2 separate regions of the Homo sapiens genome follow, and region 1 is linked to region 2. A link means that fine-mapping ties the variant in region 2 to the expression of a gene that starts in the linked region. Tissue or cell type: whole blood. Region 2 holds a variant in brackets; the other region holds the start of a gene. All regions are shown on one strand. Distances are from middle to middle.

Evidence for each region. PIP is the estimated chance that this variant, and not a neighbour inherited with it, causes the effect.
Region 1: it holds the start of KANSL1-AS1, and the variant in region 2 is fine-mapped to the expression of KANSL1-AS1 in whole blood (INTERVAL, PIP above 0.99).

The regions. Positions count from the first base shown.
Region 1 is chr17:46,190,166-46,198,343 of GRCh38, reverse strand. It overlaps KANSL1-AS1 (KANSL1 antisense RNA 1), which reads right to left and starts at 4,771. Exons shown (of 2, transcript NR_034172.1): 1 at 4,606-4,771; 2 at 1,621-1,976. It overlaps KANSL1 (KAT8 regulatory NSL complex subunit 1), which reads left to right and starts at 4,915. Exons shown (of 15, transcript NM_015443.4): 1 at 4,915-5,521.
Region 2 is chr17:46,250,714-46,258,891 of GRCh38, reverse strand. It overlaps a transcript of LRRC37A not described here. Among named protein-coding and RNA genes, the nearest start is that of LRRC37A, 40 kb to the left of the region's middle. The variant AATAC/C (reference allele first, on the strand shown) is at 4,493.

The sequences.
Region 1 (8,178 bases), 61 kb after region 2:
CAGATTTTAACCTTTAAAGTTTAGAACTGTGGAAAATAGCTTCATTCACTAATAATAATAGTTAAACTTAAGAGGTAGGTGGTATTACTATCTCCATTTTACAGAGCAGAATACGTACTTTGCCCAAAGTAACACAAAGAATAAGTGAGGGAGGCAGGATTAGAATCGGGCTACCTAGGTCCTGTGTGCTTAAGTACTACACTCTACCTTTTTCATTTATTCAGTCAGTTCTTATGATGTGTCTCTTTTGTGCCAGGCCCTGGGCTAGGTCCTAGGTAAGTAACCAAAAAAATGGGCCCCTGTGCTTTTGAAACTAAATGGCCTAGGCTTTAGAACTTGTCCTGAGTTAATATATAATAATTGCTTTTTCTTAAGTGCAAAAAAAGTTATTCATTGTCCTTTTGAGATTAGTTTGGACATACGAGGTACTGAATTTGTGAGATTATTCTGTTTAGGAATTTCTGGCTTGTTTAGAAGGTCTGTGGCAGGGAAGGTAGAGAGTGCCTTTTTGGAATACGTTTATTATCTATAGATGAGTTACAGATCTTAAATTAGAACAACCACAGTTCCTGCCTGCAAGGGCTTTCAGGCTGGCTTGAGGTGGCAAGACTGGTATATGAAAACAAACTCAGAGGAATTACAGACAGCATTTAACCAAGGGTAATGTAGTGCCAACTCTGTACATTATTGGTTCTTTTTTTGAGACACAGTCTCCTTCTGTCGCGTAGGCTGGAGTGCAGTGGTGTGATCTTGGCTCACTGCAACCTCTGCCTTCCGGGCTCAAGTGATTCTCATGCCTCAGCCTCCCGAGTAGCTGGAACTACAGGCGTGCACCACCATGCTTGGCTACTTTTTGTATTTTTAGTAGAGGCGGGGTTTCACCATGTTGGCCAGGCTGGTCTCGAATTCCTGGCCTCAGGTGATCTGCCTGCCTTGGCCTTCCAGAGTGCTGGGATTACAGGCATGAGCCACCACGCCCAGCCTACATTATTGTCAAGTGAAGTGAGTAGACGATAACAGTGGTGTGGTGGAATATAAGAGGATAACATGAGTTGTAGGTGGATTGGAGAGAGGAATTAACAAGGAATGGTGGTAATGAGGGATGGTCCTCTTTTTCTAGGTAGAGAGAACACAGACAAAGATGGATGGATACAGAGCTGTGTGTAAGAGGGAACACCTTTTCCTTTTTTCTTTCTTTCCTTCCTCCCTTCCTTTCTTTTTCTTTTTTTGGAGACGGGGTGTTGCTCTGTTGCCCAGGCTGGTTTGCAGTGGCGTGATCATGGTTCACTGCAGCCTTGACCTCCTGGGCTCAAGTGATCCTCCTGCCTGAGCCTCTGAGTAGCTTGGACTACAGGTGTATGCCACCACCCCCGGCTAAATTTTTTTATTATTTATTTTTTGAAGAGATGAAGTTTTGCTGTTTTCCCTGGGCTGTTCTCAAACTCCTGGGCTCAAGCAATACTCTCACATTGGCCTCTCAAAGTGCTGGGATTATAGGTGTGAGCCACCATGCCTGGCCATGGAATGTCTTTTCTGAGGAAGAAATAATAAGATTAGTTATATAAAATACTGTAATCATAAAGTAAGATACAAATACTAAAAAACATTAGAACTCAATCATTGTTTTTTGACTTCATTTATTATATAAGGAACCTAACTCAAATTGGCTTAAGCAATTAATAAATGTTTATTGTTACATTGTTGTAATGTGGCTGGAAATCCAGAAGTCATACAAATTGTCAGGATTGGTTGATACAGTGGCTTAATGCTATCACCAAGGACCAACTCTCTATTCCCTTTGATGTTGGTGGCATCTTCAGGCTTGCTGCAAAGGTGACTGTAGCAGTTTGAGGTGTCACTGTCTGAGGAAGAGGGACTGTTTTTTCCTCCATCATTTTTAGGATTGAAGAACCTTTTCTCACAGTTCTCTTTTGGAGGCTGTCCAGGGGGCTTCTACTCACATCTCATGGCCATTCCTAACCAATCATTGGCAAAGAGAATGGGTTAAAACTAATCAGAATAGAGTGGATATTGGAGAGTCAACATGACTATTCCAAGAGTGATTTGAAATATGTTGGTGTTTTTATTTTTTTATCACTTTTCATTTTGAGATGGTCTCGCTCTGTTGCCCAGGTTGGACTACAATGGCATGATCATGACTCACTGCAGCCTTGACCTCCCAGGCTCAAGCAATCCCCTCAGCTTCTGGAGTAGCTGGGACTGTAAGCACATGCTACCACACTTGGCTAATTTAAAATTTTGTTTGTAGAGATAGGGTCTCACTCTGTTGCCCAGGCTGGTCTCTAACTCCGGAGCTCAAGTGATCCTCCCACCTCACCCTCCCAAAGTGCTGGGATTACAGGAGTGAGCTGCTGCACCAGGCCTTTTTCTTTAAATCTTTTTTTGTTTGTTTGTTTTATTTTGTATGTAGGTGTTTTCAATCAGCCTTTTGGACATCCACTATTTTTTGGGGGGAAATTTAAGAAAATTTGTTTCTCTTCATAAGATTTTTGTGTGGTGGCTCATGCCTGTAATGCCAGCACTCGAGTCCAGGAGTTCGAGACCAGCCTGGGCAACATAGGGAGACTCTGTATCTACCAAAACAAAAAGGAGTGAAAAAAATAACAGCTGGGCATGGTGGCATATGCCTGTAGTGCCAGCTACTCAAGAGGCTGAGGTAGGATCGCCTGAGCCTGGGAGGCTGCAGTGAGTTTGATTGCACCACTGCACTCTAGCCTGGGCAACCGAGCAGGACCCTGTCAAAAAAATAAAAGTACAAGTGGATGCCTAATAAGAAAGATGTCTGATTTTAGATAAGAATATACAACAGGTTGACTGATTTAAGTGCCATAAACCCTGTGAACTCTTGACTCTTGCACTAAGCAATGAGAGAAAGGGGAAACTGGAATTTATAGTTCCCCCAAATACATGGTTTTAAAAATGAGCATTTTCCAGTTTTCTCCTAATCCATTAGAAAAATATATTTCATATAATCTTGCTTATTTGGTTGCCTAATTAAATCTGACAGTTCAGTCTTAAAAATTTGGAGCAGCAGTAAGATTATTTTGTTATGGTGTGTCTGAATTTAATATTTAAGTATACGCTGCAAAGGGCTTTGCCTTATTTGGTATTTTTCATTCTGCTAATTTAGATTTCAGGAGCCTCAGATTGGGGCTCTAGTTCGCCATCTGTTGGTCCAATACCCTTCTACTGTATTTTGTGGAATTACTATTTATGTGTGTATGTGTGTACAATAAAAAAGTCAAAGTTTTTCCCCAGGGTTGTAAATTAAAAATCCAAGACTAAAGACCTCTTTTGGATGTGTATACAAATATTAGTTTATTCTTTGTGTAATTTGACCCTATGACTCCAAACTGCCTGCCTTTGGTATTTGAGAACTATGACTATGCTTGAGAGTGTGATTTTAGGAGTACAAATGGAAATTCGCAGAAACCTAGGTGCAGATGTTGCAGGGGCAGGTGAGTTAGTGTAACTTTGTGGGAAGACTAAAACCGTTCTGTAACGACTGTGAGGGTGTTTTTTGATAAGCAGAAGTGACGTATAATGCCGGATATTGGTTCTGGTAAGCCACAAAAAAGTGTGAAGCATTTTGCGTCTTCCTTTTTGGTAGTAGAGCATACATACCCTTCTTATCTGCCGAATTTGATGATTTAATGATTTGAACGATTTTTTCTTCAGTCATTTAAGCCAGTTTTGATGAATCCTAGATTAGTCTTTTAAATCTCAAGATACTCCACTCATCTTTTGGCAACTTTAAAGGGTGGTAGAATTACACTTTGTGTGACACTTTGTATTACATTATGTTTATGAATTCTTTAAGTCTAGGAAAGGTTCCATTATTTTAAAGGTCCTATTTTGGGGACAATATAAAGTTCTGTACTGATAAACTGGTCATGAGAAATGATAAGGTGCCACCACTTTAAACCAACTCTGGTAACGAGGTGGGAAGTTGGCTTTTTGTTGTGAGACTTGTGTTTCTTTATGGAGTTCTTTGTTAAACTTTTAGCATGGCAGTGAACTTCCTTTTGGTGGCGGCAGGAAGCATAAATACTCATTGTGTAATGCCATTTGCCTGTTTTGGCGGATCTGCCAAGCCATGACACCCAAAACAAGACGCGTGTTTCTTCACGAAAACTACAGTTCCCAGCGGGCCCGGCGCCGGCGGGGCCATCACTTCCCCTCTGGCTCCCGGCTGTCCCTTCCCGGGCTGGCCCGGCGCGGGCCCTGGCTGGGGCCTGCGCAGTGACTACGTGCACCCTCCCCACCCCGCCCAACTCTGGTGGCTGCGGAGCGCGGTGCTGGGGCTAGTGCCCAGCCGTGCTGCAGTATACGGAGGCTGGCTGCTAGGGACAAAGGGCGGGCGGCGGAAGCCGCTTCACTGGTCAGGGAGCTTTCTGCAGGGTTAGCCTTGGAATAGTGTGGTGCCGACGGCCTTACCCTCTTTACTACACAGTGCAAACAGTTCCTCGCTCACGTCCTCTCGCTCCGCGGCGCCGGCCCGCCCTGCCCCTCAACTGGCGAGCCGCACCGCCGGCCCCAGCACGGAGGGCATGTGACGGCGTCAGTGCCTCAGGTTAGACTCACCTCGGCCGCAGCGAGGGCTGGCTTCCCCCTGCCGCAGTGCTGCGTGCCGTCGCCGCACGTCCGGGGCAGCTGGGGCCGGGCGCCGCGGCCTCCGCAGATGGAGGTACAAAAACATCGGCCACGGCGAGGAGCCATGACTGAGGCGGCGGCGGCCGCGCCTCCTGGCGGCCCGCGGGGGCGGCGCGGCGGGCGCCCCCTGGCGGCGCGCCGGGGTGGAGCGGCCCTTCGCCGCCGCAGCCGCAGCCGGCGGAGGCGCTGCTGTCCCTCCTCCCCGTGTCCCCGGCGCTCGCCCGCTTGCTCGCTCGCTCCATTCTCCCTCCGCTTCAGATTAAAGGGGGGGAGGGAAAAGGAGCTCGGCCGCCATTTTCCCAGTGCCGCCGCCACCGCCGCCACCGCTCGCCGAGCCGGCGGGAGAACCGAGCACCGTAGCGAAGCCGACTCGTCTCGCCGCGGCGGCGCGGGGGGCGGCTGAAGCGCGCTCCCCGGCTGGAAAGAGGCGGCCGGGGGTGGCGGCCTGGGTGCGGGTTCGGGCTGCAGACGGCGGTGCTTGTTTGTGCGGGGCGGGGGGGCGGTTTCACTCTCTGCCCCCGCCCGCCCGCCCTCCCGGCCGGGCTGCGGTCTCCAGCCGTGCTCGGGCCCCGTCGGTGCGGAGCAAGGCCGGGAAAGGGCCCGAAAGAGAAGAAAAAGCAGCCGCTCCCCGCCGCCGCCTTCCCCTCCCCCTCTGCCTCGCCCCCCCGCCCGGAAAGTCAGGGCGGCTCCGGGCGTCGGGGGGAGGAGAGCGGCGGGCCCGGGCCGGAGCCGCCGTCGCGCGCCCCCGCCCGCCGCTGGCCCTCGGCGCCCAGGCCGGGGGGCTGTTTGCAAACTGCGCCCATTTTGTGGGGCTGAATCCGCCCGGGCTACGCTCCTCCATCACGTGGTAGGTGCTGCTGCTGCTCCTCTCCTCCTCCTCCTGCTGCCCTTTCTCCTTCTCCTCGCTCTCCCTGTGGCTCCCATTTCTCTCTCTCTTTGTTAGTTGTAACTAGAAAGGCAGGGCAGGGTAGAAAAATCCCCCGGAACTTTAAATGGCCTCTCCGGGCTTCCCTGCTGCGGGTCCGGGCTGGGAGTCGCCCCAAGGGCGGGGGTGTGCGGGGGCCCTTCCCCAGGAGCTGCCGCCTCGTTCGCCAGCTTTTCCTTTGGCGTTCTATTTAAAAAGGCGGCCTGAAGAACATGATTTATTCCCGTAAAAGAACCCCCCAAACAAACTCTGGCTCTCGCCTTGAACTTCTCTTGACTGCAAAAGGCCTTTCTCTGCTCGAAACACACATCTTGGCGCGTTGCACGGTTTGTATCACAACTCTGATTGTTTCATTTATTATTTTTGTTGCCTGTAAATTCAGGTCACTTACGTTTTCAGATGTAGTCTCCCTCAGGCGGACTTTTTTTTTTTTTAAACTAAAGAGGAAGAGGGATTTATTTGCTTTTAAGTGAGTTGGAATCTTAACTGCCTTTTTGGGGGCCTGTTTTCCGGCTGACGGTCTTTTGATTCTTAGCAAATAGTTTGTTTTCCATACGATAAACAGCGCTACTCCCGTGTCTTACTTAAAAATCCTCGTTTTCCAATGTTGGAATCCCAATGTGGATTTATAGAGAAACGTGCTACTTAACTATTGCTTACTGATTGCTTTAGGGGAGAAGGGGTGACATGATGGCGCCACTTTAAATTGCTCTCTTTCCTTTTCCTCGGTCCCCCCCACCCCCCTTTATCCTGGAGGTCACTGGAGCATTTTCTGTGACTTATTAATAAAACTGTACTTGAGGGTGTTAGAAGCACAACTCGTAGGGGCTGGAGTTTAGTGCTCCTAGGGTCGGCAGACCGACTGCCGCGGTCCCCAAAGTTCCGAGAAATCTCTCTTCCTCCAGCCTCGCCTCCCTCCCCTCCATTCACAATCCTGGTGTTGCCATCTCCTTTGTCACGTGGCTAGCAATCATTGTGTTTTTTTGTTTGTTTTGGGGTGTGTGTTTATATTTTTAAATTGCAGCTCAGAGGAACCTTTCCTTTTCGCTTTGGAGAGATCAAAACGTTTTACTTGTTTTAGTTTTAGAGTCGGAGAACATTTTAAAATAAACGATAAAATTACATAATCTTTGCCTTGCATAATCATGATATAGTTATAGATTGCTACTGAACTTCATTTTGAAAGTCCTTTCAAGTATGGAAACTAGTACGTTAGAATATGTTTTCCATTTGTCAGGATGGTCTGTAATTTCTGTTTTCTCTGCTTTTTGGGTCAGTTAAAGGACCACTATTTACAAAGGCTTAAGTGGGTGTGTTTTCCCTTTCCCCTTTCCTATAGGCTCTACTTGGTTCCTTTTCTAGCATGCTGTCTGACCAATTTAGAAAATTTCAATTGTCTACAGGCGTTGTCAGTTAAAACTATTTTTTTAACCTATCAACAGTGAATACTTTTGAGTAGTAATTGTTTTGTGCCTAATGCTAAGTGTATTTATTAGCATTTCGGTGTTGATCTAGAAAATTTTTACTTTTAATCCTGTAGTTTTAGAAGTATGTTATTCCTTTATCTGTTTCTTTATATCAGTTTTTCCCATAATTGGGTAAACTCCTATTTTATAAAATACGAAGTACATTTCTGGTTTTTTCTACATAGGTTACTAGACATTTTTTCAATTTGAAAAAACATTTTGAATTAAGAAACTTTTTTTTTAAAGTAAATACGAAATGTGGTTCTTGAGTATGCATTGATCCTGATTTACCATGTACATTGTCAATGGTTTGGACCATTTTCTTTGCTAACAGTTACATCATGTCATGTGATATGTGCAGTGTGATGTGTAGTTCTAAAAATAAGGCAAGGTAAAAATGCTCATCCCTTGGGAATTTAAAAAATGTATTATAAATGTGGAATAACTACCTTCAGTCATGAAATTCTGAATTGGATTTCCACTAGGTTTATGCAACAAAGTGTGCCGTTCCTTCGACCTTTAGCATATTTGGTGTATTTGTTAGTACCTCATAATTTGAGGTGATTGACTTTTTATTTTTTGAACTACTTGGAGGGAAACATTAAATGTTACAAAGGTTCTTAATGTCTATATTATGGTGAAGATGGTTGTCACTGATGGCCACCTCATTTGAGTATATACCAGTGTCTGTGATTGTGACCAGTTAAAAGAATGATCAGTTAAGAATTATTAGAGCCTTTATGGTAGGGTGGGATTTTCGGTCTTTCCATCTATATGAGTCCACTGAAGTGAAGTATTTTAGAAGTTTTCTTGCATCTTTTCTGAAAGCCACGTTCAGAACATTCGTATTTGACTTTGGTGCTTTACCAACGTGAGATGTTAAATTTTTGTCTGATTTTCTTTCTTCCTGCCTACACATGTTATTTCTCTGGTTAAACCTGCAGAGCACTCTTTGTTACGTGAGTGTTTCCTGTTGAGGAAAATTCTGGAAGTTAGAAAATGAGTAGGCCTTAGTTCACTTGTGAACTCATATCAAGGTGAGAAGAAAGTGAAGTAACTATACTAAACTTTTTTCTTCACTGTCACTAAGGCTACTCTTCCATCTCTAGTAAT
Region 2 (8,178 bases):
AAAAAAAAAATTAGCCGGGCGTGGTGGCAGGCGCCTGTAGTCTCAGCTACTTGGGAGGCTGAGGCAGGAGAATGGTGTGAACCCAGGAGGCAGAGCTTGCAGTGAGCCAAGATTGCACAACTGCACTCCAGCCTGGGTGACCAAGTGAGACTCTATCTCAAAAAAAAAAAAAAAAAAAAAAAAAGAATAATAGTCTCCAATCCTGTCCAGGTTGCTGCAAATGCCATTAATTCATTCCTTTTTATGACTGAGTAGTATTCCACTGTATATCTATACCACAGTTTCTTTAGCCACTCATTGATTGATGGGCATTTGGACTGGTTCCACATTTTTACAATTGTGAATAGTGCTACTATAAACATGTGTGTGCAAGAATCTTTTTCGGCCAGGCGTGGTGGCTCACGCCTGTAATCCCAGCACTTTGGGAGGCCAAGGCAGGTGGATCACAAGGTCAAGAGATCAAGACCATCCTGGCCAACATGGTAAAACCCCATCTCTATTAAAAATACAGAAAGTAGCTGGGCATAGTGGCACACGCCTGTAATCCCAGCTACTTGGGAGGCTGAGGCAGGAGAATCACTTGAACCCAGGAGGCAGAGGTTGCAGTGAGCTGGGATCGTGCCGCTGCACTCCAGCCTGGCGACAGAGCGAGACTCCATCTCAAAAAAAAAAGAATCTCTTTCATATAATGACTTAGAAAGACTGAACTCTTACCTGGGCTGTGTGTGTTCTCTCTCTTTTTTAGTCATTCACTCTAGCTATGTGGGGAGGACATTCAAGCAGTCTATGGAGAAGTCCAGGTAGTAAGCCAATGAAGTCTTCAACCAATATTCAGTAAGGAACTACAGCCTGCCAACAACCAATGAGTGACCTTGAATGCATATTTTCTCCCAATTGAGTCTTCAGATAAGAGTGCAGCCCCAGGCCACTGCTTGACTGAAACATCCCAAGAGAACTGAGCAGAACCACCCAGCTAAGTCCCTCCCAGATTCCTGGCCCACAGAAAGTGTGATATAATAAATGTTTTTTGTTTTAAGCTGCTAAATGTTGGGGATCATTTTTTTTTTTTTTGACATGGGCCTCACTCTGTCGCCTAGGCTGGAGTGCAGTGGTATGATCATGGCTCATTGCAGCCTCAACCTCCAAGGCTCAAGGGATCCTCCCATCTCAGCCTCCCAAGTAGCTGGGATCACAGGTGTGTACCACCACACCTGACTTTGGTGTTTTTTTTTTTTTTTTAAGTAGAAACAAAGTCTTGCTTTGTTGTCCAGGCTGGTCTGGAACTCCTGGGTTCAAGTAATCCTCCCTCTTCAGGCTCCCAAAGTGCTGGTATTACAGGCATGAGCCACTATGCCTGGCCCAATTGTTAAATCTTTTTTAAATTTTATTATTTTTTTCTTTTTTGTTCAAAGTGTTACTTTTTTTTTTTTTTTTTTTTTGAGACAGAGTCTAACTCTGTTGCCTGGGCTAGAGTGCAGTGGCACGATCTTGGCTCACTGCAACCTCCGCCTCCCAGGTTTAGTTCAAGCAATTCTCCTGCCTCAGCCTCCCGAGTAACTGGGATTACAATCACGTGCCACCACACCCAGCTAATTTTTTGTATTTTTAGTAGAGACAGGGTTTTGCCATGTTGGCCAGTCTGGTCTTGAACTCCTGACCTCAGGTGATCCACCCTCCTCGGCCTCCCAAAGTGCTGGGATTACAGGTGTGAGCCACCATGCCCAGCCTAGTGTTAAATCTTTATAACAACATAAGTACGAGGTTGAGACTTATTACCCTGTTTTACAGATGAGTAACTGAGGCACAGAAAGGTTGAGTTACTTGGCCAAGGTTATACAGCTAATAATTACAGGATGCCAAAACCGCTAGCTTCTGCCAGTGCTCTTAATATAAGGTTGAAAGAAAAAAGAAGAGAAAAGAGCCAATTAACATAAAACATAGCTGTTAGAAGCCTCCTTCTACAAATGGCGATGAAGTCTAAGTTGATAATCATAGCCGCCTTCTTCACCACTTCTTCCAATCCCCTTTCGAAGGGTTCTGTGCCTCATAGGGACACTCAATACTTTATTCCATAAGACCTGACTTCTTGGTGGTCTTGTTTTTATTGGGTTGCTCTACTTTTCCATTAACCAGGTCTTAGGGTCAAGAGCCTGCTAAGATGTGTCCCCAGTGAATTTTTGGCTTTCAGACATAGCCTCCTTCCTCCATTAAGTAACAGAGCCATTTTCCTCTTGCTAATCATATGTAAAGAGGCTAGTTCGGTGATGGTTTTAGTCAGCTCAGTATTACATACTGGGTGGCTTAAACAATAGACATTGATTACTCACAGTTCTGGAGGCTGGGAAGTCCCATATCAGGGTGATAGCACAATTGGGTGCTGGCAAGGGCTCTTTTCCTAGCTTGCAGATGGCTGCCTTCTTGCCATATCTTCACTTGGTGGACAAAGAGAAGAAAGGCTCTCTGGTCTCTTCTTTTTTTTTTCTTTTTGTTTTGAGACAGAGACTCTCCAGATGCTCTCTCTGTCCAGGTTGGAGGCTGGAGTGCAATGACATGATCTGGGCTCACTGCAACCTCCACCTCCTGGGTTCAAGCGATTCTCCCACCTCAGCCTCCCAAGTAGCTGGGATTACAGACTTGCGCCACCACGCCCAGCTAATTTTTGTATTTTTAGTAGAGATGGCTTTTCACCATATTGCCCAGGCTGGTCTCAAACGCCTGATCTCAAGTGATCCACCCACCTTGGCCTCCCAAAGTGCTGCGATTTCAGGGGTGAGCCACTAGCCAGACCACCTGGTCTTTTCTTTTAAGACACTCATCCCATCATGGGGCACTGTCAGCCTAATTACGTCCCAAAGGCCCCACCTTCTAATACCATCACATGGAGGTGAGGGCTTCAACATAAGAATTTGGGGGCCGAGGCCGGGTGTGGTGGCTCACCCCTGTAATCCCAGCACTTTGGGAGGCTGAGGCAGGCAGATCACGAGGTCAGGAGATCGAGACCATCCTGGCTAACACGGTGAAACCCCGTGTCCACTAAAAATACAAAAAATTAGCCAGGCGTGGTGGCGGGCGCCTGTAGTCCCAGCTATTCGGGAGGCTGAGGCAGGAGAATGGCGTGAACCCAGGAAGCAGAGCTCGCAGTGAGCCAAGATCATGCCACTGCACTCCAGCCTGGGTGACAGAGCGAGACTCCGTCTCAAAAAAAAAAAACAAAAAACAATTTGGGGGCCGGGCGCGGTGGCTCATGCTGGTAATCCCAGCACTTTGGGAGGCTGAAGTCAGCAGATTACCTGAGGTCGGGAGTTTGAGACCAGCCTGACCAACATGGAGAAACCCCATCTCTACTAAAAATACAAAATTAGCCGGGTGTGGTGGCGTATGCCTGTAATCCCAGCTAACTCGGTAGGCTGAGGCAGGAGAATCACTTGAACCTGAAAGGTGGAGGTTGCAGTGAGCAGAGATCGCGCCACTGCACTCTAGCCTGGGCAACAAGAGCAAAACTCCATCTCAAAAAAAAAAAAAAAAAAAGAATTTGGGGAGGATGCAAACACTTAGCCCATAATAGTAGCCGCCTTCCATCCTTATTGATTCAGCAGCATGAGGAACTTTAAATGGCCAGCTTCGGCTGGGCAAGGTGGCTCATGCTTGTAATCCAAGCACATTGAGAGGCCGAGGAAGGAAGATCACTTGAGCCCAGGAGTTCCAGAGCACTCTTGGGCAGCATACTTGCCCATAGTGTAAAAATTAGCTGGGCAGGGCTGGGCTTGATGGCTCACACCTATAATCCCAGCACTTTGGGAGGCCGAGGTGGGTGGATCACCTGAAGTCGGGAGTTTGAGACCAGCCTGGCCAACATGGTGAAACCCCACCTCTACTAAAAATACAAAAATTAGCTGGGCATAGTGGTGTGCGCCTATAATCCCAGCTACTTGGGAGGCTAAGGCAGGAGAATCGCTTGAACCCAGGAGGCAGAGGTTGCAGTGAGCTGAGATCACACCACTGCACTCCAGCCTGGGTGACAGAGACTCTGTCAGAAAACAAAACAAAACAAAAAAAACAGGCGCGGTGGCTTATGTCTGCAATCCCAGTGCTTTGGGAGGCTGAGGCAGGCGGATCACAAGGTCAGGAGTTGAGACCAGCCTGGCCAACATGGTGAAACCCCGCCTCTACTAAAAAAAAAAAAATTGCCAGGCGCGGTGGCACATGCCTGTAATCCCAGCTACTCCGGAGGCTGAGACAGGAGAATCGCTTCAACCCAGGAGGTGGAGGTTGCAGTGAGCCAAGACCGCGCCACTGCACTCTAGCCTGGGCAACAAAATGAGACTGCGTCTCAAAAAAAAAAAAAATTAGCTGGGCAAGGTGGCATGCGACTGTAGTACCAGCTACTCAGGAGGCTAAGGTAGGAGGATCTCTTGAGCCTGGGAGCCTGGGAAACAAGAGTGAGATTCTGTCTCTAAATAAATAAATAAATAGATAGATAAATAAATAAATA[AATAC/C]AATAAATGGCCAGCCTCGGCTTCCAGTTGAATAAAACCATAATAGTATTTCCTGATCTACACATTTCTTCCTTTGGCACTAGGACCTCTGGACCCACTGAGTCCCGGGTCCCTGGCAAGGAAAGCAAAAATTCTTCATGTGAATTATTAGGGGCCACAGTGGGAGGAGCCACTCCCATCTCCTCTCCTCGGTTCCTGGACTCATTCTAGCATGGTCTAAGTCTAGGAACGGCAGTGCTAGCAGAAGTCCCGCAGGCAAGGGAGGCAAATCCACACCCAGAACACGGGTCTGTCGTTGTGAGGATGAGGCACTGTCCTTACACCCCAGTCTGGTCCTACAAAAAAGGATGGCCTCTCAGGGTGCGACCTTCACCTTGGAGCAGCGCCCTCTGCTGGCCGCCTCTAAGATCTGTGGCCACTTGCATCCCCCTTCTAATCTTCCCCTACCTCTGTTGGTTCAAATCCTCTCTCAGTTTATTAATCCTTGGAAAGAATTACATAGCGGTTATTCACAGCTTGTAAATTACAATAGAAAGGTTCCTTTCAAATGGTAGAGTTGCACTAAAGAGGAAATTGGGTTTATAAGAAAATGCACCTCTCCCTCTCCCTCTCCCCCTCCCCTCCCCCTCCCTCTCCCTCTCCCCACGGTCTCCCTCTCCCTCTCTTTCCACGGTCTCCCTCTGATGCTGGACTGTACTGCCGCCATCTCGGCTCACTGCAACCTCCCTGCCTGATTCTCCTGCCTCAGCCTACCAAGTGCCTGCGATTGCAGGCACGCGCCGCCACGCCTGACTGGTTTTCGTATTTTTTTGGTGGAGACGGGGTTTCGCTGCGTTGGCCGGGCTGGTCTCCAGCTCCTAACCGCGAGTGATCCGCCAGCCTCGGCCTCCCGAGGTGCCGGGATTGCAGACGGAGTCTCGTTCACTCAGTGCTCAGTGGTGCCCAGGCTGGAGTGCAGTGGCGTGATCTCGGCTGGCTACAACCTCCACCTCCCAGCCGCCTGCCTTGGCCTCCCAAAGTGCCGAGATTGCAGCCTCTGCCCGGCCGCCACCCCGTCTGGGAAGTGAGGAGCGTCTCTGCCTGGCTGCCCAGTCTGGAAAGGGAGGAGCGTCTCTGCCCGGCCGCCATCCCATCTAGGAAGTGAGGAGCGTCTCTGCCCGGCCGCCCATCGTCTGAGATGTGGGGAGCGCCTCTGCCCCGCCGCCCCGTCTGGGATGTGAGGAGCGCCTCTGCCCGGCCGTGACCCCATCTGGGAGGTGAGGAGCGTCTCTGCCCGGCCGCCCCATCTGAGAAGTGAGGAGACCCTCCGCCCGGCAACCGCCCTGTCTGAGAAGTGAGGAGCCCCTCCGCCCGGCAACCGCCCTGTCTGAGAAGTGAGGAGCCCCTCCGCCCGGCAGTCGCCCCGTCTGGGAATTGAGGAGCGTCTCCGCCCGGCAGCCACCCCGTCCGGGAGGGAGGTGGGGGGGTCAGCCCCCCGCCCGGCCAGCCGCCCCGTCCGGGAGGTGTACCCAACAGCTCATTGAGAACGGGCCATGATGACAATGGCGGTTTTGTGGAGTAGAAAGGGGGGAAAGGTGGGGAAAGGACTGAGAAGTCGGATGGTTGCCGTGTCTGTGTAGAGGCGGGTAGACATGGGAGACTTTTCATTTTGTTCTATACTAAGAAAAATTCTTCTGCCTTGGGATCCTGTTGATCTGTGACCTTACCCCCAACCCTGTGCTCTCTGAAACATGTGCTGTGTCCACTCAGGGTTAAATGGATTAAGGGCGGTGCAAGATGTGCTTTGTTAAACAGATGCTTGAAGGCAGCATGCTCCTTAAGAGTCATCACCACTCCCTAATCTCAAGTACCCAGGGACACAAAGACTGCGGAAGGCGCAGGGTCCTCTGCCTAGGAAAACCAGAGACCTTTGTTCACTTGTTTATCTGCCGACCTTCCCTCCACTATTGTCCTATGACCCTGCCAAATCCCCCTCTGCGAGAAACACCCAAGAATGATCAATTAAAAAAAAAAAAAAAGAAAGAAAATGGAGGCATGGTGGCACGCGCCTGTATTTCCAGCTACTTGGGAGGCTGAGGTGGGAGAATCACTTAAGCCCAGGAAGTGGAGGTTGCAGTGAACTGAGATTATGCCACTGCACTCCAACGTGGGTGACAGCGAGATCCTGTCTGAAAAAAAAAATCAATGAATCAAAGAATGGTGACCCCAGTAAATACCTGATACTTTATTTATTTGGCTCAATGAAAATAAAAAAGAGAATTTTATGCAAAAATTTCAGACAACTGAATTTTGCCAAATGATTCCATTTACTAAGGATTCCATCTTTGGTTCTAATGTAGTATATATTCCCTGTGGAGGAAATGGATTTCTCCAAATAACTGGATCCATAGTCATGTAATGCTAGTGGGGACAATCACCCCAGCTTAGATACCATCAAATGAATTCCAACATATGTGGGCTCTCCCATTATTTGTCTTCTCACCTGCCAGCCTGCCTCTCTTGGCAATGCTAGGATTCCAGAATCAGGCCCTAAGCTCAGCAAGGGCCTCCATGAGGGCCATATTACACCCTAAGATTCCCAGATGTCTATTTGGAACCACCTCTGACTTACTCCCTTATTTTGCCCCTGAAACTGCATGGGGACAAAGAAGAAATCATAAAAACAGGGATAATGGATATGGCCCTAAGTATTTTAATGTGGCCTATCAATAGTGTCGTCATACCATCCCTGTTTACCAAGCCTTTATGGCAATTTCTTCACCTTGATACTGTTGACATTTTCGGCTGGTCATCATTTTTTATGGGGGAATTGTCCTGTGTGTTTTAAGACGTTAAGCAGGACAGGTGAGGTGGCTCACACCTGTAATCCCAGCACTTTGGGAGGCTGAGGTGGGCTGATCACCTAAGGTTGGGAGTTTGAGACCAGCCTGACCAACATGGAGAAACCCCATCTCTACTAAAAATACAAAATTAGCCAGGCGTGATGGTGCATGCCCATAATCCCAGCTACTCGGGAGGCTGAGGCAGGAGAATCGCTTGAACCCGGGAGACAGAGGTTGCAGTGAGGCGAGATCGTGCCATTTCACTCCAGCCTGGGCAACAAGAGCAAAACTGTGTCTCAAAAAAAAAAAAAAAAAGATGTTAAGCAGCGTCCTTGACCTCTGCCCAGATATTGCCAAATGTCACTTGGGGAGCAAAATTGGCCCAGTTGAGAACCACGGGACTAAGGTAAGCAGAATTATCAGGATAAAACAGACAATTCACCTCTATCATACCAGAGTTTTTTGTTTGTTTTTTGAGACAGGGTCTTGCTCTGTCACCCAGGCAGGAGTGTGGTAGTGTGATCATAGCTCACTGCAGCCTCAAACTCCTGGGCTCTCAGGAGGCTGAGAAGCAGTGAGTCACAATTGTGCCACTACAATCCAGCCTTGGCAACAGAGGGAGAACCTTTCTCAAACAAACAAGAGGAAGAAGAGGAAGAGGAAGGAGAGGAAGAGGAAGAGGAAGAGAAGGAAGAGGAAGAGGAGAAAGGGGAAGGGAAGAGAAGGACAAGGAGAAGGAGAAGAAGAAGACTCTGGGGCTCAAGCCATCCTCCTGCCTGAGCCTCCCAAAGTACTGGGATTACAGGTGTGAGTCACTGAGCGTATTAGTCAGGGTTCTCTAGAGGGACAGAATTAATGGA